6 separate regions of the Homo sapiens genome follow, and regions 2, 3, 4, 5 and 6 are each linked to region 1. The links come from fine-mapping of genetic effects on plasma protein levels. A gene starts in region 1. Each other region holds a variant in brackets. All regions are shown on one strand. Distances are from middle to middle.

Region 1 (5,466 bases):
CATTTCTTATTAGAAATTATAGCTTGAATTCCATAGTGAAATTCATCCTTCCCTATGGACATGGAGGCAAGTGCCCTATAAAATTAACAAACTTTTGTTCCAAGAACATTTATTTCTGAGGGTGCAGAGTATCAATTTCAAGGTTGAGTTTCTTTAAAAATCAGGAGCTAATTTTTAATGAATTAACATTCAAAGGATCTATATGACCTAATCCACTACCTGACAATTGCTGGTATGAGGGAAATGTGGCCCCAAGACCACTGAGTTCAGAGATGAGTCTGAAAACAATTTTAACATGAAAATTTATGAAAGATATGTACACACACTACATACCTCTCAACAGCCTAAGAAGAATCTTGTGCTGGCAGAGAGCAGAAACAAAGACTGAAATTAACACTGAAGATATCAGCTGACTTCATCTTATGGGTTAACCTATTCTATTTTGTAATTCTGTGAAAATCTCATGATTATTTTTAATTTTCGAAAACATTTTTCTATGTTCTTTTTAATAGCAACAGTCCAGTCATTCAGGACTCATACATTCTTTAGCTGAAGTTATTTTATTGATCTTCATTTACTATCAGTTAACTTTTAACCAAGATATTTCCCACATTTGTTATCATAAACTTTTAGTATTTATTAGTACAAATTTTTCCCCTTTCCTAGACACAAAGACATAAGACCTGTTATTACTGGATTTTTTTTCCATTTCAGAAGCTTGAGTTTCTCTTCATAAATATTTTCATAAAAAGCTATTTCCCTAATATCACTAGATTATCTATCAACATAGTCCTACTTTATATTTAAACTAGCTCTGATATCAGCCCATAGTACCTTCCAATTTTTAGCAAAGTGAGATCAGTGTCAATCTAAGCCTTTTTTGTAAAAGGATCCAATTTATGACTGATCAAAATGCTTGCTTAACAATGTTTGGTTTTCTAATTTGATGTGCAGTGCTACTACATCTAAAACAACAACTTTGCTTTTTCTATACAGCTATTCCTGAGATCTGTATTCTCAACTTCCTCCCTAAATTTTTGGAAAGACTATTTAGTAATAAAAAAAGTCCATAGATTCTGTTTTAACTTTTCCATTCTTACTCATTTTTACTTTCCACGAGACAAACCTAATAATGAAAAGCAATGTTAGTTAAAAATGTTGTTTCTAAAGGCCTGTCAAAGCTTGTATTTAGCATATATTTTTGGGGGTTGTGGGGGTGATGCAGCATAGTTCTTAGGTTTTTCTATTGCTGAAATAACACTGTAAATCTCTTCCTACCCATGCCTTAAATTCCTCAGTATTTCTGGTCTTGCACAACAACATATCTGTGAGCTTATATGTCTTCTTAGAAATAACAGACTTACTTTGGAACATAAGCACTTAGGAAATGTTCAACCACTTGTGATCTTGCATTAGTACATTTTCCAAGCTATTCTAGGCAGATAGAGCAAATCAGAGAAAGTTCTTACCTCTTGAAGGGCGTAAGACAATGCACATCACCAATAAGGCAAGCACAGCAGAGGTGGCAACTCCAAATACGATTTTTACCCAAGTCTACATAAAATAAAGAGAATTAGGCATACACACAGTTCCTGCTAAATAGTAGAAATGGCAAGATTTTGTTTACACCTAAATCCTTTTTCTCTCGCCCCACAAAGCTTTTGATTGTTTTCCACTGATCCGGCTATAATTGCTGGAATTCTTCCAGCTCTGCAAGGACAAATGTTTCTACAGTATATTTAGAACAATTTTCCAATCCCAACCCATTGAGGAAGTAAATACTTATGTACAAATCTTCACCTTCTAAACAATAGAAAACTCTGATCACGTTCAATCCAGCCAACCCTAATTTTTTAAGAATACTTGAGGTTGCTTATACTAACCTTCATTTTTCCAGATGTTTTTGAAAGTTAGCTAATTCTGTCTTCAGAGCGTGGGTCACTGGATCTGTGAAAACCGTTGAAAAGGACCAAGTCTGTCTTTGTAGTTGGAAGCTGAAGCCAGGACAAGGTTTTTTTCTTTCCACGGACTTTTGAATACCGTGCCAAGTTTCAAAAGATTTCTGTAAAATTAGAAACAGATTTTGGGGGCGTTCTTGGCCCTCAAATGAACTGTGAGTGACTCAAGGGAAGTTTTATAGCCTTCTCATCCTTGTAACTACACCAACATCTGCTTACGTTGACATACAGAGGTTTTTATTTTTTCTTTTTTACCAGTTCAGGTTTATGTTGCATTTTCTTCTAGAATTCACTGAAGGATCACTTTAGCAAGTCATTGGGTTTTGCATAACATTTTTATTTGCCACTAAAAGATGAATTTAAAATAATGAAACTTGCAGGTCTGTACATTAAACATATATCTACTTTTTAACAGAGGAAGAACATTGAAGCCACATAAGATTTTGTGAGAAATGTGCCATATAACTGCACTTTTTTTTCCTCTGGAAGATTATGAGGTATTGCAGACAGAAATGTTTTTCTTTCAGCACAATTTCTTTGTCCATATAGCACCATATGCACTTTCAGTAAATACAGAAGTTTAAAAATTCAACTGTCTAAACCCACGGCTGCTTTACTTTAAAGAAATAAAATGCCATCTGGTGAAATTTAGTATGGGTTAGGTGTGTATGCACAGGCTAGAAAGATGGAAAGATCAGTAAGAATAATTTACCAGCAGACCTTTGGAAGAATGGAAATGGCTTTACAAGAGTGGTATTTTTGCTTTCCTCTCAGAATATCTTCTGAGAGAGGAGAACATCTAGTAATTATAAAGATTTAAAAATAAATAAAAAAGCATCTGAAAAGAAAAGTAAATCTTATGTATAATTTCATTTTGGCTAAATCTACATAATTCCAAAGAAATTGGTCATCTTGACAGATTAGTAAAATGGTTGACTGAATTAAAAAAAATACACATACAACAGTTTCTTGGAGTGTTCTGTCTGTTTTAATGCAATTCACTTGGATAGATTTTGTGGTTCCACGTAAACACAGTTGTTAAATCTACTGTGTCCTTAATTTTTCCACTAATGGTTTTCTTTTTTCGAAGTTTATAATGTTCCCAACCTGATTAAAACACTTCATGGCAACCTTTCTTGGATTGTACATGAAAGGTAATGGGGAAATGTTACCAAAACATGTTGCTGTTTGCCTTAGTCAACTTCTCTGGCTACCACGGGACACTTTCTCCAGCAAAGAGCAGGACAGTGGCTTGTGAACTTCCTTTCAGACATTCTCCAGACATCCCTCCCTGAATTCCAGCCTTATGAAAATTCTGTTGAGGAAAATGAGTCATTAGGCACTTACTGGCAGAGAACTGTATTCCTGGTGGCTGGGGCTGGGCCCTCTCCTTTGCTGTTGGTGGAGTCACCTCTTTACAAAATGAAGTAATCATTAAGAGTAATATCCAAGGTGTGCTATACACTTGTAGGTATCTCCAAGTGATTGTGAAATCCTCAGATCTCAGATAAAAGCCAGCAGCCAGGTCCTGAATGAACTGTTTCTGTGTAAGTCCTCTCAGATTGATTGTCTTCTCTGGAACACACCGTGTTCTCAGAAGTTCTGCCCTAGCCTGCCAAAGCCCCAGAGTACACAGGCACTTTTTAGTGGGTGATTTCCAAGACTTTACATTGTAGAGAGAAACTATAATAAATTATTAGGGTGTAATTAAAAGACCATGCTGAGAGCATGTTAGCTCTAGCAATTAAGAATGCACTGACATGTGACTGGTCTGAGCACCACTTAGGATTCTATGACTGTGTGTGGGTGTCCACAAGATACTCATTTAATAGGCTCTATGAAGAGGTTGGAGTGCTTTAAGATACACTTAAGTTGCCACTATTAGTAAGGGTGGGAAATGATGAGAGTGAAACAATGTCTGTTTAAGTTTTTTTGTTTTTTCCTTGGAAGGTTGGGTGAGTCAAGCTGTAACTTCTGGAAAATTCTTACTAGTTTGAACTGTTTTAAGAAAAATGAGACTGACTGCAGAAATAAAGATGTCGAGTTTTTCCATCTGAATTCATGGTTTAGGGAGGTATTGTTTTTATAAAGTCACACATGTTCATTCGTTTGAGATAATGTGAATGTATTCTAATTTTCATCCAGACAAGAACTCTCATAAAATTTGGATTTTTAAAATATTGTAATATCTTTATTAGCTTTTTTTAATTTTGGAATCAAAATGAAAATACTTTTGTCAACTTTTAAAAAACATTTACGAAACTGACTCTTATTCCTACTTTATACAATTAGTTAACACCCCATCAACATTTTTGTTGAGAAAACAAAAATGAATCAGACACAGTCTGTGCCCTTAAGGAACTTACATTCTAGTATAAGTATGGCAGGTATGTTCTTAATGTTCTTACATACTTGTTTCCTTTTGCTTCCTAAAGCTCTTGTTCAGAAATAGCCTGAAGCTGAGTTTGTGTTCTGTAGAAAGAGTGTTCTCACTGGTTGGTGATTTCTTCATGGACCTGGGAAGAGGACTGGAAAGGGCACATACCACATGCATGTCATCCTTAGTTCAACCTTTGTTAGTTCTAACCTTTGTTAGTACTGAGACTTTTCTCAGAAAGCAACTCTGGGTCTATTAAAATGCTGCAAAACCAGAAAGGATGATGATTTGTCATGTAAAAATGTAAGGGCAGCAATTAGGAGAGTAGAGGCTCATCAACTGAGTTCTTTCCAGAGAGGGACCTTGTAAGGCTGACTTTGGAATATGACTGCATTCTGGTAAGCCCACTGGATAAGTGAGCTATAACATAAATCCTTAGGTTATAAGGAGGAGAGCTTACTAGAACTATTTATTAGTAGCCAATGTTTACCTGCCAAAAATGATTTTAATTTATATGTTTTCCCAGAAAACACATCCAGCTATGTATTTCTAGAGTCTGAAGGTAAGACCATGCTGAGAGCATAAGGATGTTATCTTTTTATTTTATGGTGGGGAGATGAAAGAGAGATGTGTTTATTAACCAAAAGCCATGACAAATTATTTAAGGACAAGTTACAAGGGGAATAAGGATACAAGTGCAGTAAACATAAGCCTGATTTTATACTCTTTAAAGTAAAAATTTGCTTCTAGAGAGCCTAACAGCTCCTAACATCCTACCCATTTGATTCCTCAGATTCAATAAACATTTATTGTTTACTGTTATCTACAAAGTGATTTTAATGCATTATTTCATCTGATCCATACCAAAACTCATTTTGATGATTAGGAAACAGCCTAGAAAAACTGGATAACTTGCCCAAGATTTTAACAGGACCCAGTGTTACCACCTTACATTGCTTCTTTGTGATACTTCCTAAAGTTTTATTCCAAAGTGATAAATTTTTTTTAAAATTATAATTGACATTTCACTGATTTGCTGTTGGGGGACACTTAAGGTTGTGAGGGTAAAATAATTAAGGCTAAAATATTAATGATGTTCACATCCTCAAAGTACTTTGTTACACATATCTC
Region 2 (5,000 bases), 310 kb before region 1:
CAAATTGACACTTTGAGGGAGGCTACCATGGGTATAATGTATAAGCCTCCATTTGGAGCAGGATCCAAGATCAATATGGATACATTAGATTCTACTTTTTAAAATAAGCACTCATCTCATTTCAGACTATGGACATGCTACTGAGCTTTACTATCCTTAATCCTTAGTCTAGTACCTCGGTATCTTCATTAAGTATGAAAGGTTATTTCTATTAGGACTTGCCTCTGAGTCCCAAACTGGGACTCAGGATCAGATCATGGAGGAACATGAAACTCTTATGTGGATGATGACATGGATTGGGCATCTGTGGTGGTTCTGGAACTTCAGGATTCACCTGATCTGCCTCCTACTTATCTTTGGAAAAATGTAAAGTATAGGATCTTTCTACCACAATCTTTACTACTGTAGGGAGTTTGATCCACTGACTCTTTTCAAAAGACCTCTCAGTGTTCAAGTACTTTTCTTTAATGCCATTTCTTGAGAGTTGGAGCTACAGTTGCTCTAGATGTGTCTAGGTCTGATCTTTTCTCCCCATACTCCTTGAGCCCCTGATAACCACCATTCTACTTTCTATTTCCATGAGTTCAGTCTTTTTAGATTCCCCATATAAGTGAGATCACAAGGTATTGGTCTTTCTGTGCCTGGCTTATTCCACTTAACATAATGTCCTTGAAATTCATCCAAATTGTCAAAATGACAGAATTTTGTTCCTTTTTAAGGCTGAAAAGTATTCCACAATGTATATATGCCACTTATCTTTCTTTCTCTTTCTTTCCTGCCTGTTTTTCTTTCTTTTCTTCTTTCTTTCCTCTTTCTTTCTCTTTCCCCTTCCTTCTTTTCTTTCTTTCTTTCTTTCTTTCTTTCTTTCTTTCTTTCTTTCTTTCTTTCTTTCTTTCTTTCTTTCTTCTTTCTTTCTCCTTCCTTCCTTTCTTTTTCTTTCTCTTTCTTTGTTTCTTTTTTCTTTATTTCTCTCTCTTTTCTCTTTTTTCTTTCTATTCTTTTCTTTCTCTTTCTCTCTCTTTCTCTCTTTGTTTCTCCCTTCCCTTCCCTTCCCTTTCCTCTTTCTTTTACAGGCTCTCACTCTGTCACCCAGTGAGTACAGTGGCACAATCATAGCTCACTGCAGCCTGGAACTCCTGGGCTCAAGCAATACTTCTGCCTCAGCCTCCCGAGTAACTAGGACAACATGCACATGCCACCACATCTGCCTAATTTAAAAAATTTGTTATAGAGACAACATTCTTGCTATGTTGCCCAGATTGTTCTCAAAGGTCTGGCTTCAAGCAATCCTCCTGCCTTGGCCTCCCAAAATGCAGGGATTACAGGCATGAGCCCCCACACTCAGCCTCAATGCCATGTTTGACTTATCCTTTCGTCCATTGATGGGCACTTAGGTTGATTCCATATCTTGGCTACTGTGAATAAATGCTACAGTGAACATGGGAATGCAGATATCTCTTCCATTTACTGATTTAATTACCTTTGGGTACATATCCAGTAGTGGAATTGATGGATCATATGGTAGGTCTATTAATTTTTTGAAGAAACTCCGTACTGTTTTCCATATGGCTGTACTAATTTATATTCCCATCAACAATGTGAAAAGTTTCCCTTTCTCCACCTCCTCGCCAACACTTGTTCAGACACTTTCATCTTTAAAAAAAAATTAATTTTTAATTTTGTGCACACAGTAAGTGTGTATATGTATGGGGTGCATGAGATATTTTGATACCGGCATTTTGATGTGTAATGATCACATCAGAGTAAATGAGATATCCATTACCTCAAGCGTTTGTTCTTTCTTTCTGTTACAAACAATCCAATTTTGCTCTTTAAATTATTTTAAAATGTTCAATCCATTATTGTTGACTGTAGTCACCCTGTTGTGTTATCAAATACCAGATCTTATTCATTCTACCTAACTATATTTTTGTACCCATTAACCACCCCCACTTGCCTGCCCACCCCTCATTACCCTTCCCAGCCTCTGATAACCATCATTATACTTTTTATCTACATGAGGTCGATTATTTTAATTTTTAGCTCCCACAAATAAGTGAAAACATGCAAAGTCTGTCTTTCAGTGCCTGGCTTATTTCACTTAATATAACGACCTTCACTTCTATTCATGTTGACACAAATGACAGGATCTCATTCTTTTTATGGCTGAATAGTATTTCATCATATATATGTACCACATTTTCCTTATTCATTCATCTGTTGGTGAATACT[T/C]AGGTTGCTTCGAAATCTTGGCTACTGTGAGTAGTTTTCATCTTTTCGATAATAACCATTCTTATAGATGTGAGGTAGTATCTCTGTGGTTTTAATTTGCATTTCTCTGATCATTGGTGATTTGAGCATTTTTTCACATACCATTGGCTATTTGTATGTCTTCTTTTGAGAAATGTCTATTCAGATACTTTGCCCATTTTTAACCTTGTTTTTTTTCTTACAGTTGTGTTGAGTTCCTCGTATATTTTAAACATTAATCTCTTATCAGATTTATGGTTTGTAAATATTTTATCTCATTCCATAGGTTGTATATTCACTCTGCTGATTATTTTCTTGGCTATGCAGCTTTTTAGTTTGATGTAATCTCATTTGTCTATCTTTGCTTTCCCAGTCTGTGATTTGGGGTTAAATCCAAAAAAAAATTATGCAGACAAATGGCAATGTTTTCTTATAGTGGTTTTAGGTATTTAATCCTTTTTTAAATATGGTGTGAGATAAGGGTCTGATTTCATTCTTCCACATGTGGATATTCAGTTGTCCCAACACCATTTGTTGAAGAGACTGTCCTTTCCCCACTGTGTGCTCTCAGCATCTTTGTCGAAAATCATTTGACCTTAAATACATGGATTTATTTCGGGTTGTCTATTCTGTTCACTGGCCTCTGTGTCTATTTTTATGCCAGTGCCATGCTGCCTTGTAATACAGCTTTGTGGTGTATTTTGAAGTTTGATATTGTGATACTTCCAGGTTTGTTCTTTTTGCTCAAGATTTATTTGGTTATTTGTTTTTTGTGGTTATACAAAGTTTAGGATTGCTTTTTTCTATTTTTGTAAAAAATGTCATTGGCATTTTGGCAGGGATTATATTGAATCTGTTGATAGCTTTTGTTAGTATGGATATTTTAAATATCAGTTCTTCCAATCCATAAACACAGGATATTTTTCCTTTTATATGTGTCCTCTACAATTATTTCATCAATGTTTTATAGTTTTCAGTGTACAGGTCTTTCACCTCCTTTGGATTAAATTTATTCCTAAGTATTTGAAATTTATTTTGGTAACTATTGCAAACAGGATTGTTTTCTTGATTTTATTTTTCAGATAGTTTGTTGTTAGGGTGTTAAAGTGCTACCCATTTTTATGTGCAAATAAGGATAATTTTCTTTCTTTCTTTCTTTCCAATTTGGATGCCTTTTATTTCTTTCTTTTGCCTAATGGCTATGACTAGAACTTCCAGTACAATGTTGACTAAAAGTGGCAAGAGTAGGCATTCTTGTCTTATTCCTGATCTTGCAGGAAAACCTTTCAACTTTTCACCATTGAATAAGATATTAGCTGTGGGTTTATCACATGTGGTCTTTATTGTGTTGGGGTACATTCCTTCTATGTTTAATTTCTGAGAGTTTCTATCATGAAAGAATGTTGAATTTTGTCAAATGCTTTTTCTGTGTCTGTAGAGATGATCACATGGTTTTTGTTCTTTATTATATTAATGTAGTGTATCACATTTATAGATTCGTAAATGTTGAATCATCCTTGCATCTTTGGGATATATCTCACTTGATCATGATGAATTATTCTTTTACTGTGTTGTTGCATTTAATTTGCTGGTATATTTTGAAGGTTTTTGCATTTATGTTCATCAGGGATATTGACCTATAATATTTTCTTGTAATGTTCTTGTCTGGCTTTGGTATCATTGTAATGCTTTCCTCATAAAATGAGTTTGGATGTACTTCTCTTCTTCAATTTTTTGAAAGAGTTTCAGAGGAACTGGTATTATTAGTTCTTCATTAAATGGTTGATGATTTCAGCACTGAAGCCATCAGGTCGTGGGCTTTTCTTTCTTGGGAGAGGCTTTTGGTAATTGATTCAATCTCCTTACTTATTATTGGTCTGTTCAGATCTTCTATTTCTTCCTGATTCAACCTTAGTAGGTTATATGTGTCTAGGAATTTATCCATTTTTTTCTAGGTTATTCAATATGTTGGATAATAATTGTTTATAGCGTTCTTTTATAATCCTTTGCATTTCTGTAGTGTATTTTAATGTCTCCTCTTTCATTTCTGATTTTATTTGTTTGAATTTTCTTTCCTTTATTCTTGGTCTAGCTCAACATTTGTTGATTTTGTTATTATTTCAAAACACCAACCTTTAGTTGAGCTGTTCTATTGTTAGATAGAATAGAATAGAATGTTCTATTTCAACAATAAAATGTTGAGCAGTTCTATTGTTTTTCTACTTTGTATTTCACTTATTTCTGCTCTGATTATTATTTTCCTCCTTTTAGTAACTCTGTGCTTAGTTTCTTCTTATTTTGTGTGTCTTAAGGTACAATGTTATAGGTTGTTTGAGATCTTTCTCCCTTTTTGATGTAAGTGTTTATTGCCATGAACTTTCCTCTTAGAACTCTTACTGTTGCAATCTACAAAAGTATTTGTTTTTGGCAAGTTGTGTTTCCATTTTCATTTGTCTCAATACATTGTTAAATTTATCTTTTAACTTCCTCATTGTCCCACTGGTTGTTGAGGAGTATGTTGTTTAATTTCCACATATTTCTGCATTTTCCAAAATTCTTCCTGTTATTGATTTCTAGTCGCATACCATTGTGTTAAAAAAAAGATACTCAATATGGTTTAAAGTATCATTTCAGTTAATGATCTGGACCTTAAATGATGGCAGCATAATCAATGTTAATCACAAACCAAAGGCTATTTAGTGTTATTATTTTAATATGCAATATACTTACCAGGCCCCCCAGCACTCAGT
Region 3 (5,000 bases), 46 kb before region 1:
ACCTTTTAAGCATAAATTTGCTCAGTCAGTAGGTTAAAAGCAACAAATGTGGAGGTTGGAGGTACATGTTCATTTGCCACCCCACCCCCCCCAGATAGGGTGAGGATGCTACCTTCTATGTGGAGGGAACCCATTAAAGTAGCATGCTTGGCTCATGCTAAGCAGAGGAGAAATGATTTTTTTGTAGAGTTCTGAGAAGACTTGGGTATGAGTAGCTCCTTCTGTCTTTCTTCTGGCATCTTTCTGCCTGCAGAGAACATGCTTTTGATCCGTTCCTCAGTGCTGTACCTGTGCCAGTGCCAAGCCCCATGGAGGAAGATGGTGGCTGCCCTGTCATACCTATATTTGTGTAAGTATAATTCTGGGATGCAATATTGGGAAACCACACAGCTTTACCACATTTTCCAACTAGCCTTTACAAGTAAAGATAATATTTTGGTTTCCTGCCTGAATCCTAGTCTAATTTGGAAATGAGGAAAAAGGATAGTATTTATTAGGCTCCCTCAAGACTCAAAACTTCCTGTGTGGAATCTCAGAATTTTATAGAATGTTATTGCAGAGATTTTCATTTTGGCCAGTTTTTCATCAAAGTTATGAAAAAGGACAAATACACATATTACATTTTCAGCCAGCATGCAAAGAAATGAGACATGAATATAAATTTCTAGACTCTAATCAACCAGCATCTACCCTGTGGAATTTTCATGAGTGTGTAGTTTCAATAATGGAAACTTGCATATCTTTTTTTTTTTTTTTTTGCCTAAAAAATGAGACAGATAAATGACTGACTGTATTTGACACTGGATGAAGGTGTGATCCTAGTGGCCTAAACATCAGACCTTGAGAAGCCTACCTTGCATGCTTTTGTTCCATCAGCATCATCGATATAATTTTACCTGTTTTGATCCTATCATCTGGGACTTACTAACCATCCCTCGGGAGAGTTTGAAGTTACATAATGAGGCTTTACTCTTAGTCCTGAAGGGAAAGATTTCAAGGTTTTTCCTATGATGGCGCAGTGACTCATTTTACTGGAGCTTCAAAAACACCAGACGATGTGATGCTTCCCACACAGTATATTTTTTGCTAAATGGGAAATTACCATACTGCCGAGGAAGAGTGAGTGGTGGAAAAGTCAGGCGATTCAAGTTCTAGAAAGGACTCTTCCACCAACTTTTGATGAGAGCTTAGGCTTTTATTCTTCATCTCTTCAGTGGGCACACAGGCTCAAGTAGATATTAGGAAGACAACGTAATACAAAATGTGAGATAGTGCCTTCCAAAAACATTAAAGCATTATACAAATGCAGAATGCATACATATATAAATGCATGGATGTAAATGTAGTGTCACTGATGCATTCATCAGCAAATGCATCAGCATAAAACCAGCTTTTTTGGTAGACTGCAAGGGACAGCAATGTTACCTCATATCTATGTTAATTCCACAAACATTGAATGTCTATTATGTATTAGACATTCTTCTTGGTCTTAGAAATACAAAGATTAAAAGAATGTAGCCCCTGCCTTCCAGGAGAAAAAGATAGATAAACAGATGACTCAGTATAGTTAGCTCAATGATACTATGTGCCTGGCATGTAAGCTTTCAATCTATGTTGCATAAATATATAGCTTAGGTTGAAAAATGTTGCATATAACTTGAGAGGGACATTTAATGTATACCTTTAAATGCCAGTAACCACAATCAGCACATATGGTCATGAACAACAATCTCTTGACATTTCAAAGATGCCATTGACCAAACATTTTATGAAAGTGTTATTTCAAACTGACATCTTTGTGCTATCTTCAAGGGAGAATTTGGGTTAAAATGCTTATTCATGTCCACGTAGTCAAATGAGCTGCAGCTCAGGTTCCGGGGCCAGGTGGCTGGACTGAGGGAAGTGGCATGTTAGGGTAGCCTTCATTCTGGTTCCCTTTATGAGATCTTCAGGGCCTCTGCAACTGAATAGGGATATCAAGCAGTCAAAGATTCCATTTGTTCTTTAAGCC[A/C]CATACCCCTACCAGGGGAGCTGATACCAAAACAGGAGGGTAGCATACATTTTGTAATACCTTTTTCCAAGTACTCTAACTCTCAGCCCCAAATTAGGAATAAGCTGGAGGGAGGTGACAGAGATTGGAGAATTAGAGATTCCCGAGTCAGTTTTCCAAATCTCCATAATGACTACTTAGACCCCAATATATTTCATTGATCTATATTGGCCTCTTAACCTAACCTGTTTTATTGTTTGCCACATGCTCAAGATATAGATAAAAGGTTGCACATAAAATAAAATTATATGGGTAGAAATTATTCATTAAATGTACGTATGTCCTAAACAACCAGGAAATGTTTTGTAGATTTTATTACTTATGGTTTGTTATATTTGATGCATTACTTACGATGTTTTCCAAATTTAGAAAGGACAAAGGTTCATCTTCTATCCCCATTGAAACTACAGTTTGAGGAATGATTGACCTCCGACGTGGGCATCTCGGGTTTCCAAGCCGTTGTTCATTCCCCTGGATGTGAGAGTTTGATATTTCTCTGGGCAAAGGGGGCCAAAAGTCCAGCAACCATTTTATCAGAGAACATTTCTTTTTCTGCGATTGCTCAGGTCTTGCGAAGCCTAGCTGACGGGTTGCCTCTGCACGCAGTCTTAGTGCTGTGGAATGTGGTGGTTAAGAGCATGGGACTTAGAGGCAACAGCACTTGCTTCAGTCCTGGCTGATGCTTAGCTGCAGTGCGGACCTTTTGGCAAGTTACCCTGTTTCCCCAAACTCTGTTTCCTCAGTTGCAAAAAAGTAAAGATAATAATACCTTCCTATCCTCCTTTAATTTTTTTTCTATAAGCACAAGATAAGATTCTTACATATAACAAATGCTCATTAACTGTAGCTACGAATTGATCAGATAGAGGTGAGGAGGATGACAACCATGCCTGTGGGGATGCTGTGCTTATGTGAGGTCCGTTACCTACCGTAGCAGACAAGTGCATAGTACTTGGCGTAGTCGCTGAAACTTGCTGTGTAATATTGGCACCTTTCTTTCCTTAGATGGCAAGTAACACACTTCTTGCTTGGAGGATAGCTTCCAATGCTAATTCTAGAGGGAAATGAAAATAAAACTAAGCTGAAATTTTGAGATTGTATTTATCAAAATGTACTACTCCATGTAAAGTGACTAATTTACATATTGACATCAAACCCACTCTATTTTTCTGTTGCCAATATCATTTAAAGTAAAGGGGAATCACAGTATTTTGATGTAGCTTGATTTTTGATCCATCTTTGCCTTAATAGGCACAAACCTTGAGGAAGAAGCCCTATGTGGTTTCCCTGGAGTGGGAGAAATATCTAACACCTCAAATGGCAGTGAGGTAGTCACTTCCCATAACCATTCATCTCTTACACTTCACAAAGTGCTTGGGAATGCATAGTTCTTCGTCTTTCTATCTCTCTGTTTCCACCCCATGGCAAAACATAGCAAGAAAATCTGGCAGTATCACCAAGAAAGAGTCCCTGTTCTTACCATATATCAGGATGGGGAAATTAATAATAAGCAAATTGGAAATAAGAAATTACAGTTCTAAGTGCCTTCTGCGCCTTCATTCCTTTCAGCAGGAAATTTGGGCTCATGGAAGCTCAGGCTGGGAATGCCCCCTCCACACAGTCTACACAAGCCAATCTGCACTGCCCACATTGGCCCTACACTCACCCTGCAGAGTCATCTGTGTGGTTCCTGAGCAGGGTGATTGGCTTCAATACACAGACTCAGGGACCTTATCCGACACCCTCAGAATCAGAATTCCATGTGGAGGAGTTTAGAGGATGTCATGCCAGGGTCTGGACAGGTCAGGACCCCATGGTGCCTGTCAGGGTCTCCTGTGCCAACCTGTGAGTTTCTTCTGCTGCTGTCCCTGACTTTGCCTTGGGCATGGCAGAGAATGGCCAGGCCAGAGACACTGCTGGACCCAGAGAGTGATTCTTTTTAACACATAAAGTAAGATCACGATCCAGGAGGGAACAGGGGAATATGACAGAGGGAAAATTTCTTATTTCCTCTGTTAGGGTTAGTATGTTAACATATGTCCCTATTCGGGTGGAACTTTGGAAACATTAGGGAGGCAGTTAACAGCAAGGGCTCAGAGATCAGCATGCCCAGGTACAAATCCTGGCTCCAACAACATTACCTGCTTCATAGTGCTGTTGGAATTAAATGAAATTACATATGTAAGTCAGATTAAAAGGTGCCTGGCATATAATAGACTACCAGCATGTAGTAACTATTGCTTTCCTTTCCACACCCAGAAAGGGCTGTCGAGGGCACCATTTCAGTCCTCAAGGGAACAACTGGACTGAATGTAAACACTAATATAGGAACAGACATGGGTGGTGCCAAAGTGAGACAGAGTGAAGGAAATCACATATTATCAGAATAAAAACAATGCCTGGTTCATACTAGGTACTCAACAAATGTGTGTTAAATAAAGAAATGTCCTCAATTACCTCTATATGTACTTAAAGTGTTTAGTACCAGAATAGTATTTAGTATTCATGTAAACATTAGAATTTCTTGTTTTTTCCTTTTGAAAACAAATATTTTGAATTGGCTAACATTTTGCGAGTGTGTGTTTTTTATACCCATTCTCCAAATGTTTTCTCTAAATTCATAAATGATTTTTATTATGTGCCATACTTTAAAAATATTTTGCATCTCCTGGGGATGATGACTTTTTATATTAAAATATCAACACATAGAAATACCAGAATGAATGGACATAAATTACCTGTAGATGTTTCTTCTTCCAGGGTATTCTTCAAATTCATTGCTAGAATAAAACCTGAAAATATATTCAGAAATTATTAAGTATTGATAAATAAGTGATAATAGGATTGTTAGTATTAATACTAATATAGTATCAATATAGGTAAGCATTTATCTAATGAAACAATTAATTGGTGCTTAAGTACACAAATAACTGCTGTTCATAACTGAACT
Region 4 (5,466 bases), 1.0 Mb before region 1:
GAACTCAGAATTTTCATTTGAAATATACTAACAGCTTTATTTGGCATGAATGATAAAAGGTGCAGTGTATTGCCTAGTACAACCAGTAATACTTTTTTCAATAAGAATAAAAACAAAAATAATAGTAAGCAGAGCTGTGTTTCTAACCCCAAAGAAGCTGAAGACCTTAGTTTAGATACGTCATAGGAATTCCTTAAGGAGTCCTCCTTTACCTCCTGCCAATACACCAAAGGAATCTTTTCTTGATAAATTCACCCACACTAGTTATCAAATCCAAACATCACAGAAGTAAGTTAGCATCAATTATTTACCAAGCGAGACAAAGGTTTGTCATTTTTTTCCTATCTTTTCCTTCAGCCCTCTTCATCCCCATTAGTTTTTTAATACTTCTTTAATCTCAGAAGCAGTCATTCCTAGTTTATGTCAAAGTCAGGACTTTGGAATTTGGAGCACTATCTTTACCACTTTCTGTAACTATCTCCAGTTTTAGGCTAAAACTACAGGGCATTACTCTTTTTTTTGTTTTGTTTTTTGTTGTTTTGAGACAGTCTTGCTCTGTCGCCCAGGCTGGAGTGCAGTGGTACAATCTTGGCTCACTATAAGGAGGTCATTCCATTTAATATATAATCACTTATTTTATGATTTGTTTGACATATTAAATTATCAAATATAAGTATTTTCTTAATATACCTCTTCTCTGATTTTGTTGATATAGACTTAATAATAAAATCTTTTAAAAGTTTGTTTTCGTATTTGTAGTGTTCTGACTGGCTGGCTAGCTTTAAAATGTTGCCTTTCTTCCTAGTCCACACTAAAATCCATTGAGTGTTCTAATTGTACAAAACACCATAGAAAAACCTTGTCTACCACTTTTAAAAACAAACTGTGAATGTGAAAATATCTTCTGATGTGACTGCCTTATAATGCTCAATACAGCAGTTTTAATCCAGAAGAATATATGACCTGAATGTTTGTCAAACACATGATATGCAGCAACAAAATAATCTTTATTTTACTTCAGTCTGACAATATAATGTATAAAATCACAAATTGTTTGTATTGGCAAGATTTTATTTTACTAATTCTGAGATACTATAAAAATAATACTCTATATATTTAAAGTATTTATTTAGAAAAAACTGGGAAATAAATTGGAGAAGATATTAATTTTAAGAAAAACAAACTGAAATCAAGTCTTTGTCTTAGAGAACAAATAAGACTCTGAAGAAATTGAAAGAAATCTTTTGAAAAGCAAGAGTGAAGTACTTCAGTGATAAGACACAATGAAGTAAAATCTTCCATTTATAATAGCTACAATGACCTTAATTGAATAAAATCTAAATGTCACTAAAGACAGATATCCACTGGTTTGGATTTGAAATTTAAGAACTATACAATTTTGGATGAATTATAACTTATGATTCTGTATTAGGATTCTTCAAATCCTTTTCAGTTTATAAGCTTTAGAAAGTACACAACACTTTCTAGGTATGATGTAAAATTTTTTAAATATTTAAACCATAGAATACATTATTACAATATGTTCTTTAATGTTGATTTTTAAATGTCAGAATAGATGTAATACCAGTGTAAGCCACAGGGTGGGAGTGAAAGGCAAGAACTTGTGTTGAAGCAGCTTAAATACATAATTGCACCATCTTTATAAATCTTTTAAATGCTTGTTGAATTATAAGGAGCTGTAGCTTGGTTTTCTTTCTTCCTTTAATACAGCTGCATTCTTCAGCAAAGAATCTATAACAAAAGACAAACACGTTGATTTAAATATATAGGCCATTTTTACTGAATATCAAAAGAAGTAGACACATAGATTTTTTTCCCCCTAAGTTTCTGAGCGTATGAGGTGCTTGGTGAACAGAGCAGCAATTTTGATCAATAGTTGAATTTGAGAAATTTCTTGAATTACCAGTACCGGAAATAGTAATTGAAGTTACCAGAAATATTTCATCTCTTCAGACTTTCCTTCTTCATTTTCCTTTTTCCTTGATTTTTCTCATTTAAAGAAAAAAATCAATTGTATATTACATATAGGTCTATAAGCTGTCTCAAGTTATTTTTCAGTAGGGAAGGTAAATAAAATTTCCTTTGTGTTTTCTCTTTACTCGACCTCATTTGAATTTGGGAGCAATTTAAAGTAGTAATAGTAATCATTTTGTATGTTTAAGGTAAGAAGACAAGAGGTTTCTTCTCCTAGAAAAGAAACTTCAGCAAGGAGTCTTGGCAGTCCTTTGCTCCATGAAAGGTAGTTCTACATCCTTTTTTCTCAACTCTTAAAAATTATCAATACTGAAATATATTTTATATTTGTTTTTTTTAAGCTTTAACAATTGCAAAAAAAATAGCCTTTTAGAATAAGTGGAAGTGACCAACCCCAGAATCCTACATGTTAAAGATGACCTAAACAAGTCATGCAGTTAATAGCAGAGCTGAATCTAAAACTTGAATTCTGTAAAGCTCTACTATTTCAATAGACCAAGTGTTAAGGTCGTATTTCTTTATATGGATGGCTCCTAATGTGAACCTTACCAAAATGAGGAATATTTAATATTCTATTTAAGATATTTGCAGAGAACAAAAGTCAATGCATTGAAATTTCTAATGTGAGAATAAGACAGCCAACATTAGTGTATATATGAATAAGTAGATATGCTAGACTATACTATATTTATGTATTAAAACTTTTAATTTATCACTTACTTTGTGCCTGGCCCTCTACAAACACAAGCTGATTTTGGGGACATTGTTTAGGAATTTAAAATAATTTTTTTTTACTTTTAAATAATTATTTTGTGGCACATAAAATGGTACTACATAAGTTTGATTATTTAAAAAACTTGGAAGTTATAGCTTTACATTTTAAAATGTTGATTTTTTTTTTTAGGGGTAATATAGAGAAGACTTTCTGGGATCTGAAAGAAGAATTTCATAAAATATGCATGCTAGCAAAAGCACAGAAAGACCACTTAAGCAAACTTAATATACCAGACACTGCAACTGGTAAGATTTAATTTAATTTACAGTAATATTGATTTGCTTGATTGAAATTGATTTCCTTTTGAATGTGAAAATATTCCTGAATGCCTATTAAGTGTGTAGCATCTGTAATTTACCCCTCATCCACGTATGTTTGAATGTGTACATGCTGTGTAAGTTCTGTAA[T/C]GTATTACATGTGTAATTGTTGGTTTTTTTCTCTTTGTTGTATATGGTACTATATAGATTAAATTGAAAGACATAATTACTAATTATCTTAATGAGACATCCCACCTTAAAAAAATACAAAATAAATACAGACTATATCCCTGAAAGTTTTCAGTTGTTTTTTGGGGGACCTTATTAAACATTAACTTTTATGTTAATAAGTGACCTTGAAGCCACACTACCATATTATATGAGCTAAGTAAAATTATAACATCAGGTTTGTTTGTAAATTCTGCCTGAAAGTGCATTACATACACTATGGATAGATGTTTTTTTAATGTTCTTTTTTTTTTAATTCAATACAGAATCTTGCTATGTTGCCCAGACTGGAGTGCAGTGGCTATTCACAGGCCTGATGGTGCACTACAGCCTTGAACTCCTGGGCTCAAGAATTCTTTGAACTCATTTGGTTCAAGAATAAAAACGTGGCACTCAAATTTCCTGAGTGCTAGTTGTGTTTAATGCACAAAATACACATTTAGTATAAAATATAATTTAGAAGGAACATTTGTTTTACATATGTGTTATAGTATGTTTTGTAAATGCTGTACCCTTTCCTAAAACCCCAGACTGGCTTCCTGGTGTTTGCTTCAGTAGTTCTATATGAATAGCAAAATCTAAGGGATTAGGTCTGGCAACCAAACACTTCTGCAAACAAAAGGAAGGTAAACTGATCATTTATAATGATAAATTCTCCTTTACCTTTGTGATTTGAGCTATTCTGCAGACAATTCCCAAAGGATGTGATTTACAGTTTTCACTCTGAGAGATGTTGCAGTCTTGCTGACTAACACCCTTTTAATTAAAGATCACTTTCCATTTCTTGCAGCTCTTACATCTAGGCTATTTAAAATCATTTTATAGTGTAAATTCACTTTTTGCTACTACTACCATTTTATTTTCAGAAAAGTTACACAATGTGGTATTACAGAAACAAAATAATCTTTGTAGACAGACATAATTTGGTTCTTTCTCTCCCTTCCCCCACCTCCCCAAAAACAACTCTTTTCTTCACCTTAATTTTTGTCATTTTCATGAGAAATTGATCTTTTGTATGGACTAAAGATAACTAGGTACCTCTGAAGTAAATGAATTATTTCTGTTTAAAATATGCTAGCTATGGAGATGTAGTACCTAGAATTCATAAACATGCTTTTTTGAACATCAACATCTTTTCAAGGCATTGTAATGGTGATATATTCTTTGTTACACAGAAAACTTATCTCATTATCAATGGCTTAATACTTTGACCATTTTTAAATTGCACAGGTCTAAATCTGAGTATGTGTCTGTCAGCTAGAACACTGAGTATTTAACTTCAATTTCTTCTCCACTAAAACTGCTTCCTGATGCCTTATTTTTATGCTTTATATTAACAGTGTCACAAATAATAAGTACATTATTCTCAAAATATTTTGTGCTACAGACTCTAGTGAAGTTTTGCTGGGGTCCAAAGAGAAACCAAAATAAATATTATACTCTGACAGTGGTATATCAAAAGGAGAAAGGAAAAAATATTTTTTGAAAAGATGCCTATTCAGGGTTTCCAAGTATGTATGCTACACTGTATAAAAATATAGAAGAACTATTTTGAATATGATTTGCACAATATATCTGGGAAGAGTACGTGTATTGTCCCTATGTTATTTTGTATTAAAATTTGATTTTTACTTTTAAATAACCAGATATGATTCATTTGAAAATACTGAGTTAGTAGAATTCTACATTTCCTATTTATTATTACTTTGTTTTTTCTACTCATCTACATATGGCAGTAGACTTAAGAAATGATAAAGATAAAATGTATGTTTATCCATAGCTTCAAATAAAGTACTGTTTGGTTCATAAAGGAGTGTCCAATTTCAGTAGAGATTGGGAAGGAAGAATATAGGATTAAGGGTAACAAACATCCATGAGAAGGGTAATAAACAACCATGAGGTCTTTTTCTTTTGTCAATATACAACGTGATTATACTGAGAAGTAACTAAATGGATAGCCTGTATTTAAAACTGGGAAATCTAAAAATATTTCCCATTTTACTTTTTCCTTGCAAAGCTAAGTAGTCTTAAAATAGACAAAATAGAAAAGCTATTTGCTCACCTGATCATGTTTCTCAATATGGTGTCAGGATGACAAGTGCTTTCATGCATCTCATTTGAGTTTTAAGTTGTCTCAGCTTAGATTTCTAGTAGCATTAGGAATGTAAGGTTTAAATTTTTTTAATAGATATTAACTCTCACTGCTTGAGC
Region 5 (5,000 bases), 25 kb before region 1:
ATGTTTTAGCAACCTTAAGCCTCAAGGAAATATGAGAATGTGGGTCCCAACTTCCCAATCAGTGTCAGTCACTCTTCAGTTCTGGGTTCCCCGTCTCTTCCTGCTCCCATAGGTCCTCCCAAAGATCTGAGTTCTTTTACATCTTGGGTTCCCCCAAAATGTGAGGCCTGTCCCAAACATCTCCAGCTTTTAGAGTTTTTACACAGCTTTTAGACTTTTAACATAAATATTACACTGTCTGCAATTCTATTTCTTTCTCTATGGCCACTTTGGCTTGCTTAGAATTCACTTGTGTGTATACCACATCCAACCGTCTTTGTCACCCAGGGACCCACTGTGTCCAGCCACGACAATATTCCCCTTGGCAAGTAAAAGCAATAGCATCCAAAGAACAAAGAAGTGAATTCTAAAATCGCATCCGATTCCTTGTGCAAGAGGTAAATTTGTACTTTGATTCCATTTTTTCTGATATCATTTTTACATTGAAATTAGGATATAATGCTTCTTCACTGAGACCTGACCATTCTCCTACTGCACACTCAGGTCTCCTCCCTCCAGATGTGAAACTCAATAAAAAGAATGTATAACAACTCTACAATGTTAAATATCCAAAAACTATGGGTTCACACCATGTCTACTTCCTTCAAGGGAGAAATTGAGACTTATAAATTTAACCTATCTTGTACATCCAGAAAGGACCATAACCCATGCCTGCTTCTACCTGACAGGAACATCAAATTCAGCATTTGTATTTCATATTCTAGTTTGCATTTACATGAGAATTCAAGAGAGAATTGCAAAACAGAACTTTACCCTGAATTTGGAGCATGAAATATGAAAAAAATTAAAATTAAGTTAAGCTTGTTTTTCCTCCATGATCAAGACCATATGTTTTTCAAAGATTCTGCAATAGATTTTGCAAAGACTACTTCATCCAGCACAACCAGATGTCCAAAGCAACAGATGTCCACATAAATAATAGAGCACAGTACAATGTTTGCCTTACAATGCTCAAGGATAAGAAGCTCTCCAAACTTGTTGATCCCACCTTTACTCATGGTAAATCATTGCTCATTTTGATACCAGGAAAATGAAAGCATCGCTGAAAGTATTCAACATACCTTTGGGTATGGAATATTTATTGTTCTAGGATATTGTTCATCGCCATAATAGGAATAGGCAATAACTGGTATATCCGTATCATTAAATTCCGCATATGCCAAAAATTTTCCATTAGGAGACCACCAGAGAGCATATTTTGTAGCAAGCATTTCCTCTGAAAAATAAGTACTAGGATATTAACTATAATTACATCTTACTCTTAAAATCATTGTAAATACTTCTAAATAGCTATTTATCAACTGAAATAATTTATTTAATGTGGATGTGACATATGTCATACTTTGGTTATTAAAAAATTACATAATCTGAGTTAAGAGGAATAGTTTACCCTTTCACTCTATATCAAACATCAATTAGCCTTGTTAGAAAATGACATTAATCAGAAATGTAATTTTTTAAATAAATAATAAACATGTTGGCACTAATTAATTTTTTCTTTCAGGGCAGTTTCAGGTTTTTTAGTCACCTAAGATAGCCAAAACAGAAAGAACTATAATTGTACTAGAGAGTGACATAAACATTGAAAGTTACATTTCCCTCCTAAGAGTTAAAAAAAACCAAAAACACAGTTAGTTTAGATAGATAGATAGATAGATAGATAGATAGATAGATAGATAAATAGATAGAGACTAGAAGTCTCTTTAAAGTCCAATTAAGTCCTGAATTCTACATGACCTAGAATGAGAACAAAATCAACAGAGTATCAGAAAGTAAAAATATGTTCCCATAAGATAACATAGTCAGTTGTTTAGTTTTGAAAAAAAAAAATTTCTAAAGAAAAAGTAAACATGAGAAAATGTACTAATGCGGCACCTGAGGACCATATACTTTTTTGGATTATAAATCATTACTACCACTTCATAGTGATGTTATTGAGAATCAATTCTACCAGTTTTCTGATAACAAGAATTTGTTCTTTTAAAATACGTATGCCCTATTCGTAACCTAGAGACAATTTTCAGCAATGCTACCCTTCATGGAAATAAGATACTACTCATCTAAATCTTACTAAATATATGAAATTATTTTAAATTAAAAGCCTAAAGCATTAGCAGTAGAAAAGGAATACAGCTTACCTTCATAAACCCAGTCTGGGATTCCATTAAATATTTTATTTTCTCTTCCATTAA[A/G]TGTTATTTGAAAAGGTGGATCTCCTGGTCTTTGTTTCAAATAGATATTGTTTTGATAGACATATGCCTAAAAGTGGTGGTAAGGGGAAATTCCACAACAAATTAAATGAAGGCTGTATATTTGTTTTAATTATTCCTCTAATACCTTTAAACAGAGTGGTAATAAAGATACAAAAAAGATTCACAACTAAAATACCATTTTAATAGGTCAAAAAATCCAACCAACTCACATTAACATCAATTATGAATTTTAAAGTCTGAATCAAATAAAAAATAAAGCCTATTATTTTCTTAGTTGTTTCATTAACCCCAAATAAATAATTATGTATATTGACAGAAAGTCGAATAAATCTCTGAATATTAATAGCTAGCCAGATCTAATCTTTATTTAGAGTCCTTAAATAAGAGCTTGGACCAAATTTCATGTTGTCTGAAGCTAGTCTGGGAAACTTGTGAAAACCATATTTTTCCTGAGCTTTCTGGCACAACGCATTCTGGCTGAGTATAAGGATAAAGTTTTTGACTGCTATATTTAAAGAAGTCTATCCATGAGCTTGAGATTTTGCGGAATTCTCAGATGGGTTTCAATTTATCAAAACTCTTCCCGTTTTTAACCACTAAAATAGTCATGAATGTATTTTTTTTTCTTTCAGGCAGGGAAATTTAACAAAGGCCAAAATCAAATGGCTCCTCTTTTATTTACATGATTAAACACTTCAAAAATTTAAACACTTACTAATTTACTCCCAACAGGCGACCAGCATAAATACTGAATTGGACGAGGAAGCTCATTTCCTCTTACAAATTCTCTAGAAGGAAAGAAAGAAAGAAAAACAACAAACCTTGCTGTTTAATGCAAAAAAATAATAATCTGTATGAACAGAAAAAATAAACAAACAATGAAAATTAAGGATCATTCCCTCTGCACCCACAAACCTAATGAAAAGAATGCAGGAATGAAGAACTGGAGACATAGGTGTTGATTGCTGTTCTTCCAGTAGTTACTTAAAAGTCACTTAACTTTACTGGGTGTCAGTTTTCTGACCTTTATAGTGAGGTGAATGGATTAAATACTTACAGACTGTCAAAGTGGAGAAGATCTCTAGAAATTATCTAATACAGTCCTCTCATTTTATAGAAAGTAAATATGAGGTTTAGAGAGCTGATAGAACTTTTTAAGACCACATTGCTAGTTCTTGGCAGACCTTGAATTAAACTCAAGTCCTTTTAACCCCTGGGATTGTAAAATTTGCACACACTAGACTGAAATGGTCACTGAAGTGCCTTCCAGCTCTGAAATTCTATAATTGTGCTGAAGTTTAGTATGTGCTCTTCTACATTCTCATTCACAACCCCCATCTCTGTGAATGCATATGCATTTCAAATTTTTGAAAATAAGATGCCATTTGACAATCTCCCCAGGGATCTGACTTGAAATCAGAAAAGGAAAGGAACATCTGATCTCAAGCTAAACTGAAAAACGGATTGTATACTGGGCAGTATGCCTTAAGCTTGTAAAGTCCTCCACCCATGGGGAAATTTCAAATAGTCTATTGGCCAAAACTCTCACTTTGATGCTTAGAGTCACTCTGCAAGCACTCAAGTGACTTGCATTGTGGAGCTTTTGTAGTTCTTCAGCAAGAATGCATTCAGACTTTTATAAGTGTTGCAGAGTCGTAGGATGTCATGCTTACTTTTTGACTTTTGTCATCTTGAAGATTGTATTAACAGTTTCATCGAGACTGCCTTCGTGGGAAAGCAGAGCAAGACCTGCCGCCCAAGCACAATTTGAAGAGCCTCAAAAAAGACTCCTGCCCAACCCCTCCAAAAAAAGCTCTCCAACCTGGAGCTAACATGTGCCTGACATTTCTGCCTTTCCCATTCTTTTAATATTTGGGCAATTGTGAAGATCTGTAACACACACTGCCTTGATGTAACTTTTTAGGTGCCTGCATGAGACCTAGCAAGTAGCAAGGGAACATGGCATAGTTTTGAGTGGGGAGAGTGATTCCCATGGAAAGTGACCATTGGTGCTGCAATGAGAGTCCTGGCCGCCAGAGGGCAGTACATGAGCACCAGGCCCCTGGGTGATCGGGAACATGTTGAAAGGGATGCAAGAGCCCAGTTAAAAGATTGACCCAGGCCTGGCCGGCTCGCTCACGCCAGTAATCCCAGCACTTTGGGCGGCGGATTTCTTGAGGCCAGGAGTTCGAGACCAGCCTGGCCAATATGGAGAAACCCCGTCCCCACAGAAACACAAAAATTAGCAGTGGTGGCACAAGCCTGTAATCCTAGCTACTTAGGAGGCTGAGGCGGGAGAATTGCTTAAACCCGGGAGGAGGAGGTTGCAGTGAGCCGAGATCACACCACTGCACTCCAGCTTGGGCGACAGAACGAGACCCTGTCTCAAAAAAAAAAATAAGAAGACATTCTTCACCTGGTTCACAATTTGTTCTCAAGCTAGTGCTCATGTTACCTTTCATACTGTAACATTGTCTCAGTTTTCTACATACAGTGGAATTATCTATGCAATCACACAAGCAGCACTAAGCTAAAAATCTCAGCGCATGTCTCAAGCCATCACAGCTGCCATTTTCTGTTTTCTGAGTCACTAAAGGTATGAGAAAAGGCGAGGGAGGATGCTTTACAAAGGCGTTCATCTCCTCAGTTTTGCCTACCTAGCTTGAAACCAGTAGTTTTGTTTTCTCTATGCTAGATTTTTATAGAGTCTTCAAAGGCATATAAAAG
Region 6 (5,466 bases), 900 kb before region 1:
GCTGCCCATTTAAAAAATTAAGTTATTTTTCTTTTTATCATTGAGTCATAAGAGTTCTTTTTATCTGTGGACACAAGCCTGCTCATATGATTTTCAGATATTATCTCTCAGTCTATGGCTTATCTTTTCACTTTCTTGAGGGCGACCTTTGAAAAGGTTTTAATTTTGATGAAGTCCAATGAATCAGTCTTCTTCTCTTTTTTGACTTCTGCTTTTGATATCATGCTAAGAAATGCTTGTCTAACCCAAGTTCATGAGGATCTACTCTTGTTTGCTTCAAGAGTTTTATTGTTTTATCTCTTATATTGAGTTCCGTGATCCATTTTGTACATATTTTGAGGTGGGAGTCCAAATTTATGCTTCTGGATGTAGATACTCAGTTGTCTCACACCATTTGTTGAAAAGACTATTCTTTCCTCATTTAATTGTCTTGGTCCCTTTGTTAAAGATCAATGGACTATTAAATGTTAAAATTTATTTCTGAAATTTCAATTCTGTTCTCTTGATCTCTGTGTCTTTTTTTTTTTTTTTTTTTTTTTTGAGACAGGGTCTTGCTCTGTCACCCAGGCTGGAGTGCAGTGCCGTGATCTCAGCTCACTGCAACCTCTGTCTCCTGGGCTCAAGCGATCCTCCCACCTCACCCTCCTGAGTAGCTGGGACCACAGGTGCATGCCACTATGCCCGGCTAATTTTTCTATTTTTTGTACAGACAGGGTTTCACTATGTTGCCCAGGCTGGTCTCAAACTCCTGACCTCAAGCAATCTGCCGACCTCAAGCAATCCGCCCACCTCTGCCTCCCAAAGTGCTGGGATTATAGGCATGTGCCACTGTGCCTGGCCTCTATTCATATTGTTGTATAATACATTTAAGATTTTTTTCTTTATCACTGATTTTGGGTTATGATATTCATTGATGTAGTTTTCTTCATGTTTCTTGTGCTTTGGTTTATTGAACTTCATGTGTCCGAAGGCCTGTTATTTTAATCACATTTGGACAAATTTTGGTCACTGTTTCTTAAATATTTTTTTCTATTCTCCTACCACCCTTCCCAGGAATCCCAAAGATATTTATATTTTTTCTGCTTATAATTGTAGATGGCTTTATTTTTTTCCCCAATCATTTTGCCCTGTGTTTCATTTTTCTGTTGCTACATCTTCAAGTTCATTCTTTTTATTTTTATTTTTTCTGAGACAGGGCCTCACTTCTGTCACCCAGGCTGGAGTACAGTGGCATGATCACAGCTCACTGCAGCCTTGACTTCCCAGGCTTAGGCGATCCTCCCACCTCAGTCTCCCGACTACAGTCATGTGCCACCACTCTCAGCTAATTTTTTGTATTTTTAGAAGACAGAGGGTTTTGCCATGTTGCCCAGGCAGTTCTTGAACTCCTGGGCTCCGGTGATCTGTCCACCTTGGCCTCCCGAAGTGCTGGGATTATAGGCGTGAGCCACCGTGCTCGGCCATTTAATTTTTTTGTTAAATCTTCTATTAACCCCATCTAGTGTATTTTTTATTTTGCATTGTTTTTTCTTCTGGACAACTTATTGACAGCCTAGAGATAAAGTTTTGTCATGCCTCTCTGAACTCACCCCCTGCTTTATCCTATTGCTAGTGGTACATTGTCATTTTCATCCCAAGAAGTTTTATTTGGGTCATTTTTATGTTTTCCATGTGTCTCCTTAACTTTTTGACAGTTTTAAAAACTTCTAAATGTCTTTGCTAATTTTAACATCTTTGTCAGTGCTCAGTTTCAGTTGACTGACTTATCTCCTTACTGTGGGCCATATTTTTTTTGCTGCTTTGTATGTCTGATAGTTTTTACTAGATGTTTCACATTGTGAGTCTTATCTCGTGTGCTGGCTACTTTTTATTCTTAGAAATATTCTTGATATTTGTTATGGGATGCAGTTGAATTACTTGGAAACTGTTTGATTCTTTCTAGTTTTGCTTTTAACCCTTGCTAGTTAAGACTGGGGCAGTACCTTGTTTAGGAGTCATTATTTTCTACTATTGAGGCTAGACCTTTCTGTCTCTTCTAATTTTGTGAATTCTGAAATTTTCTAGTTTGGCTGGTGGGAACAGGAACTCTTTCCAGTGCTGTGTGGGAGGTAGGTGTACTCTTCCCTGTAATCCTTTTGAGTGATTCTTTCCCCAGACCATGCATTGATTCCTCACACACATGCATTGATCATTATTAAGCTGAATACTCAAAGAGGACCCTGTGAAGATCTCTAGGGTTTTCTCTCTTTGCAGCTATTTTTTCTGTGGTACTCTGTCCAGATTACGAGTTGTTTTGGTCTCAGTAATCTCAGCTCTGTCATCTCAACTCAGAGAGTCTACTGTCCTCTGCCTGGGTTTCTTCCCCTCTGCACTGCAGTCCAAAAAGTATCTCAAGGCAGTAAGCTAGGGTAAGGCTCACCTCATTTGTTTCCCAAATTTTGGAGATCGTTGTTCTTTGTTGCTTGATCAGGGTCTTACAAACTATTGTTTCATAGAGTTTTGTCTGTTTTTTCTTTGCTTTAGGTGGGAATGTAGATTTAGTTTCTGTTACTCTATCTGTCTTGGACATAAGCAGATGTCCCTTTTGTCTACTTTTATTTATTTATTTTTTGGGAGAGGAGGTCTTGCTATATCAACAGGCTGGTCTCGAACTACTCAAGGAATCCTCCTGCTCCAGTCTCCTGAGTACCTGGGACTACAGGCATGAGCCCACTGCACCTTATTTACTTTTTAATGGGAAAAATTTGTGTTGGAATATTCTAGATGGAATTCTCTCTCTACTCAGACGTTAGATCATATTAAGATAGTGCTGAGATTTTAAGAAAATCTGTTCAAATTAAATAGTTAATTGAAACCAGATTAACAGAAAGTACTATTCTTAGCATTCAGAGATAGTGAATAAATAAGATGAGGCTGAGATTTATATTGCTTTATGGATACTTAAAATTGAATATGTAGGACAGGATTTCTTAAACAAGATAGCACAAATAATAAAGGGACGATTGATTCATTTTCATCTAAAAA[C/A]ACTAAAAAATAAACAGTTAATATTTGTGGAGCACTCACTGTGTGCCGGGTACTCTTCTAAGTACTTTAAATATATTAGGTCATGTAATCTTTACAACTCTTTGCAGTTTGGTTATTGTCACAGTGCTCATTTTTCAGATGCAGCTGAGGCATGAAGCATAAAAAGCAAACAGTGAGCTACGGCTTGGGAAAGTTTTATCTAACATATAATTGACAAGGTATTAGTCAATTATGTGAGCTTTGACAAATCAATAAGAAAAAGATATCCATTTAAAAATGGGCAAAAGATACAAACATTAGTAGAAGCAGAAATGTACCATAAACATGTATATGCTAGTGAGAGTATACAACCCTCTTGGAAAAACTTTTGGCAGAATCTGTTAACAATGAAGATTTGACTAACCTACAACCCAGCAAATCTTCTCCTAATTACATTCCCTAGAGAACGTCTCCCACATGGATACTGGGACATTCATAACAGCATTGCTTATAACAGGGTTTGATAATCTTTTCTTTAAAGGGCTAGATAGTAAATATTTTAGGCTCATGGACCATATGATATCTGTCACAACTACTCATTCTGCCATTGTAGTGCTAAAGCAGCCATATATTACAAAAATGAATGGGCCTGGCCATGTTCCAATAAAATTTCACTTTAAAAAACAGTCAGCTGGTTTGCCGATAGGTTGTAGTTTGGAGATCCCTAGTTTATAATTTCAGGAAATTGAAAATGGCCCAACTATCCATCAGTAGGAGAATGTGTACATAATTGTACTTAATAGTGGAAGTTTGTAAAGTATTGAAAAATGAATAATCCTCACATAGTTCATACTAATGAAAAAGCACATGGAGGAATAATTCTATACGATTGTTTTTATGTACAATTTTAAGATACCCAAAATGATACTGCATGTTATTTGTGTATACTTATGTAGTAAAGGTATAAAGAAATGCACGATCACTAAGATGAGAATAGCGGTGACATCTGAGGATATGGAGTAAGGATGCAGTTAGTCAGGGAAAAGGACACAGGAGCTTCAACCCAGCTGCTTTAGTGATGTTTTATTTCATAGGCTGGGTGTAGTGAACTATTGTATTATTCATTAGACCTTTTTGTATTTCCTAAATATTTCATAATAAATTTTAAAAGAAATAAAGTAAATAACAGTGGTTAGAAAAAACATTTGTTCCTACTCCAGGTAGTTGTCACGTGGCTCTTTCTTCCTCTCTGCTGCTCACATACCTGGTTCATTGGCCTCTCACTCCCAGAGAGGCATCTTTCTATCTTAGGCCGAAGACAGATCAGCTTTCTAGGTAAATGACCCTTTTGCTCAGTCCGCTGCCGAATTGGCTTACTATAGGTTGGTGCAAAATTCACTGCAAATTTTGCTATTGAAAGTAATGGCAAAAACTGCAATTACTTTTGCATCAACATAGTATCTACAGTCTGTTGTTTTATAAGTATGCGTCAAATCCTAATAGTTCCCCTTTCTCTAGCCTCTCATTTGTTATGCCTTTTGGATATACTTACTCTTCCTAGAGAAAGGATCTAAATTTCTTAATGGAGACCACACAGGCAAAGGATTGCCTTTGGCATTTTCATGTATGCCTGGCTCACAGAGGCATCAGAATGCCTGCTTGGCATGTTTGTGGGTGAGATAGTGAGTCAAAAATAAAAGCTAAAACTGCATTTATTTATAAAGAGATTGAAGAGTTATTTATTGAGCATCTTTTTTGTGTGTGTTTGGTAGTCTTTCCTAGTGTGGAGTTCTTTCAATTATTTCAGTACACTTCTCTAAACTTTTTGACTTTTCTATTTAAGATGTTCGATCAGGTAACAGATGTAGTCTGTGGAGCACTGACCTAGATCCTATGTGAAGTTACAAACAAGTGAATGCCAAACCCTTACAGAGTGTTTGAATTAATGGAGACTTAATTACATGATGAGGAGAAGAGTTGTAGCAGAGAATATGTAGGGCAGCTGAGGTGTGCTCCTCAGAGGAGGGAGGAGAGTCTGCTGTGAGCCAGACGAGCAGGGTGGGGTTGGAGAGACCAGCAGGGCTTGCAAGGTATGGTCTAAACTGTGAATGTTTTCTTGCCTAAAGTAAAAGATGTATTTGTTGATTAATGAATAATTATGTTAGCATTTGGAGAGAGAAGATACTTCAAAGTTGATATTGATTTCCAACAAGATTAAAAATATGATATGTATAACATTGAGATGTAGATTTAATTTGTATTCTTTTCATAAGAGGGAACTGGGAATGTCCATTTGGTGAGGGTACTTAAGTCTTAAAAGTATGCTTATTTAAAGACAAATACGTGGTAACATTTTTAAAGAAATGTTGGTATGTTTAGTAATATAAAGTTGCCTTTGGCTTAAGCTAGGCAGAACAAATAAAATGTGTAAGGAACTTAGAATAGAAAGTACTTGTAGTTACT

Alleles and levels. Alleles are on the strand shown, and positions count from the first base shown. The strength of an association depends on the size of the effect and on how common the allele is.
In carriers of allele T in region 2, the plasma level of the protein whose gene starts at base 2,007 in region 1 tends to be lower than with C alone (moderate association).
As copies of A replace C in region 3, the plasma level of the protein whose gene starts at base 2,007 in region 1 goes up (moderate association).
With allele T in place of C in region 4, the plasma level of the protein whose gene starts at base 2,007 in region 1 is lower (weak association).
In carriers of allele G in region 5, the plasma level of the protein whose gene starts at base 2,007 in region 1 tends to be higher than with A alone (weak association).
With allele C in place of A in region 6, the plasma level of the protein whose gene starts at base 2,007 in region 1 is lower (moderate association).

Evidence for each region. PIP is the chance, under the fine-mapping model, that this variant and not a neighbour inherited with it causes the effect. The UK Biobank Pharma Proteomics Project read protein levels with antibody pairs (Olink). The fine-mapping took linkage between variants from a reference panel, not from the people measured, so its PIPs are less certain.
Region 2: its variant is fine-mapped to the plasma level of the FAP protein (UK Biobank, PIP above 0.99).
Region 3: its variant is fine-mapped to the plasma level of the FAP protein (UK Biobank, PIP 0.97).
Region 4: its variant is fine-mapped to the plasma level of the FAP protein (UK Biobank, PIP above 0.99).
Region 5: its variant is fine-mapped to the plasma level of the FAP protein (UK Biobank, PIP above 0.99). The variant lies in the coding sequence of FAP. If it changes the protein, the assay may bind it differently, which can mimic a change of level.
Region 6: its variant is fine-mapped to the plasma level of the FAP protein (UK Biobank, PIP above 0.99).

What each region holds. Positions count from the first base shown.
Region 1 is chr2:162,241,439-162,246,904 of GRCh38, forward strand. FAP (fibroblast activation protein alpha) reads right to left here and starts at 2,007. Exons shown (of 26, transcript NM_004460.5): 1 at 1,884-2,007; 2 at 1,470-1,554. The coding sequence starts at 1,889. It overlaps LOC105373724 (a long non-coding RNA gene), which reads left to right and starts at 4,679. Exons shown (of 4, transcript XR_923544.3): 1 at 4,679-4,733.
Region 2 is chr2:161,932,348-161,937,347 of GRCh38, forward strand. All of the region lies in intron 15 of SLC4A10 (solute carrier family 4 member 10), which reads left to right. Among named protein-coding and RNA genes, the nearest start is that of DPP4, 140 kb to the right of the region's middle. The variant T/C (reference allele first, on the strand shown) is at 2,233.
Region 3 is chr2:162,195,778-162,200,777 of GRCh38, forward strand. It overlaps FAP (fibroblast activation protein alpha), which reads right to left. Exons shown (of 26, transcript NM_004460.5): 15 at 4,789-4,842; 16 at 2,980-3,104. Among named protein-coding and RNA genes, the nearest start is that of FAP, 45 kb to the right of the region's middle. The variant A/C (reference allele first, on the strand shown) is at 2,012.
Region 4 is chr2:161,221,732-161,227,197 of GRCh38, forward strand. It overlaps TANK (TRAF family member associated NFKB activator), which reads left to right. Exons shown (of 8, transcript NM_001199135.3): 5 at 2,184-2,260; 6 at 2,900-3,015. PSMD14-DT (PSMD14 divergent transcript) reads right to left here. Exons shown (of 4, transcript NR_110593.1): 4 at 1,527-1,752. Among named protein-coding and RNA genes, the nearest start is that of LINC01806, 20 kb to the right of the region's middle. The variant T/C (reference allele first, on the strand shown) is at 3,178.
Region 5 is chr2:162,216,865-162,221,864 of GRCh38, forward strand. FAP (fibroblast activation protein alpha) reads right to left here. Exons shown (of 26, transcript NM_004460.5): 7 at 2,989-3,061; 8 at 2,199-2,319; 9 at 1,122-1,276. Among named protein-coding and RNA genes, the nearest start is that of FAP, 24 kb to the right of the region's middle. The variant A/G (reference allele first, on the strand shown) is at 2,253.
Region 6 is chr2:161,344,721-161,350,186 of GRCh38, forward strand. The region is part of intron 3 of PSMD14 (proteasome 26S subunit, non-ATPase 14); the gene reads left to right. Among named protein-coding and RNA genes, the nearest start is that of PSMD14, 39 kb to the left of the region's middle. The variant C/A (reference allele first, on the strand shown) is at 3,025.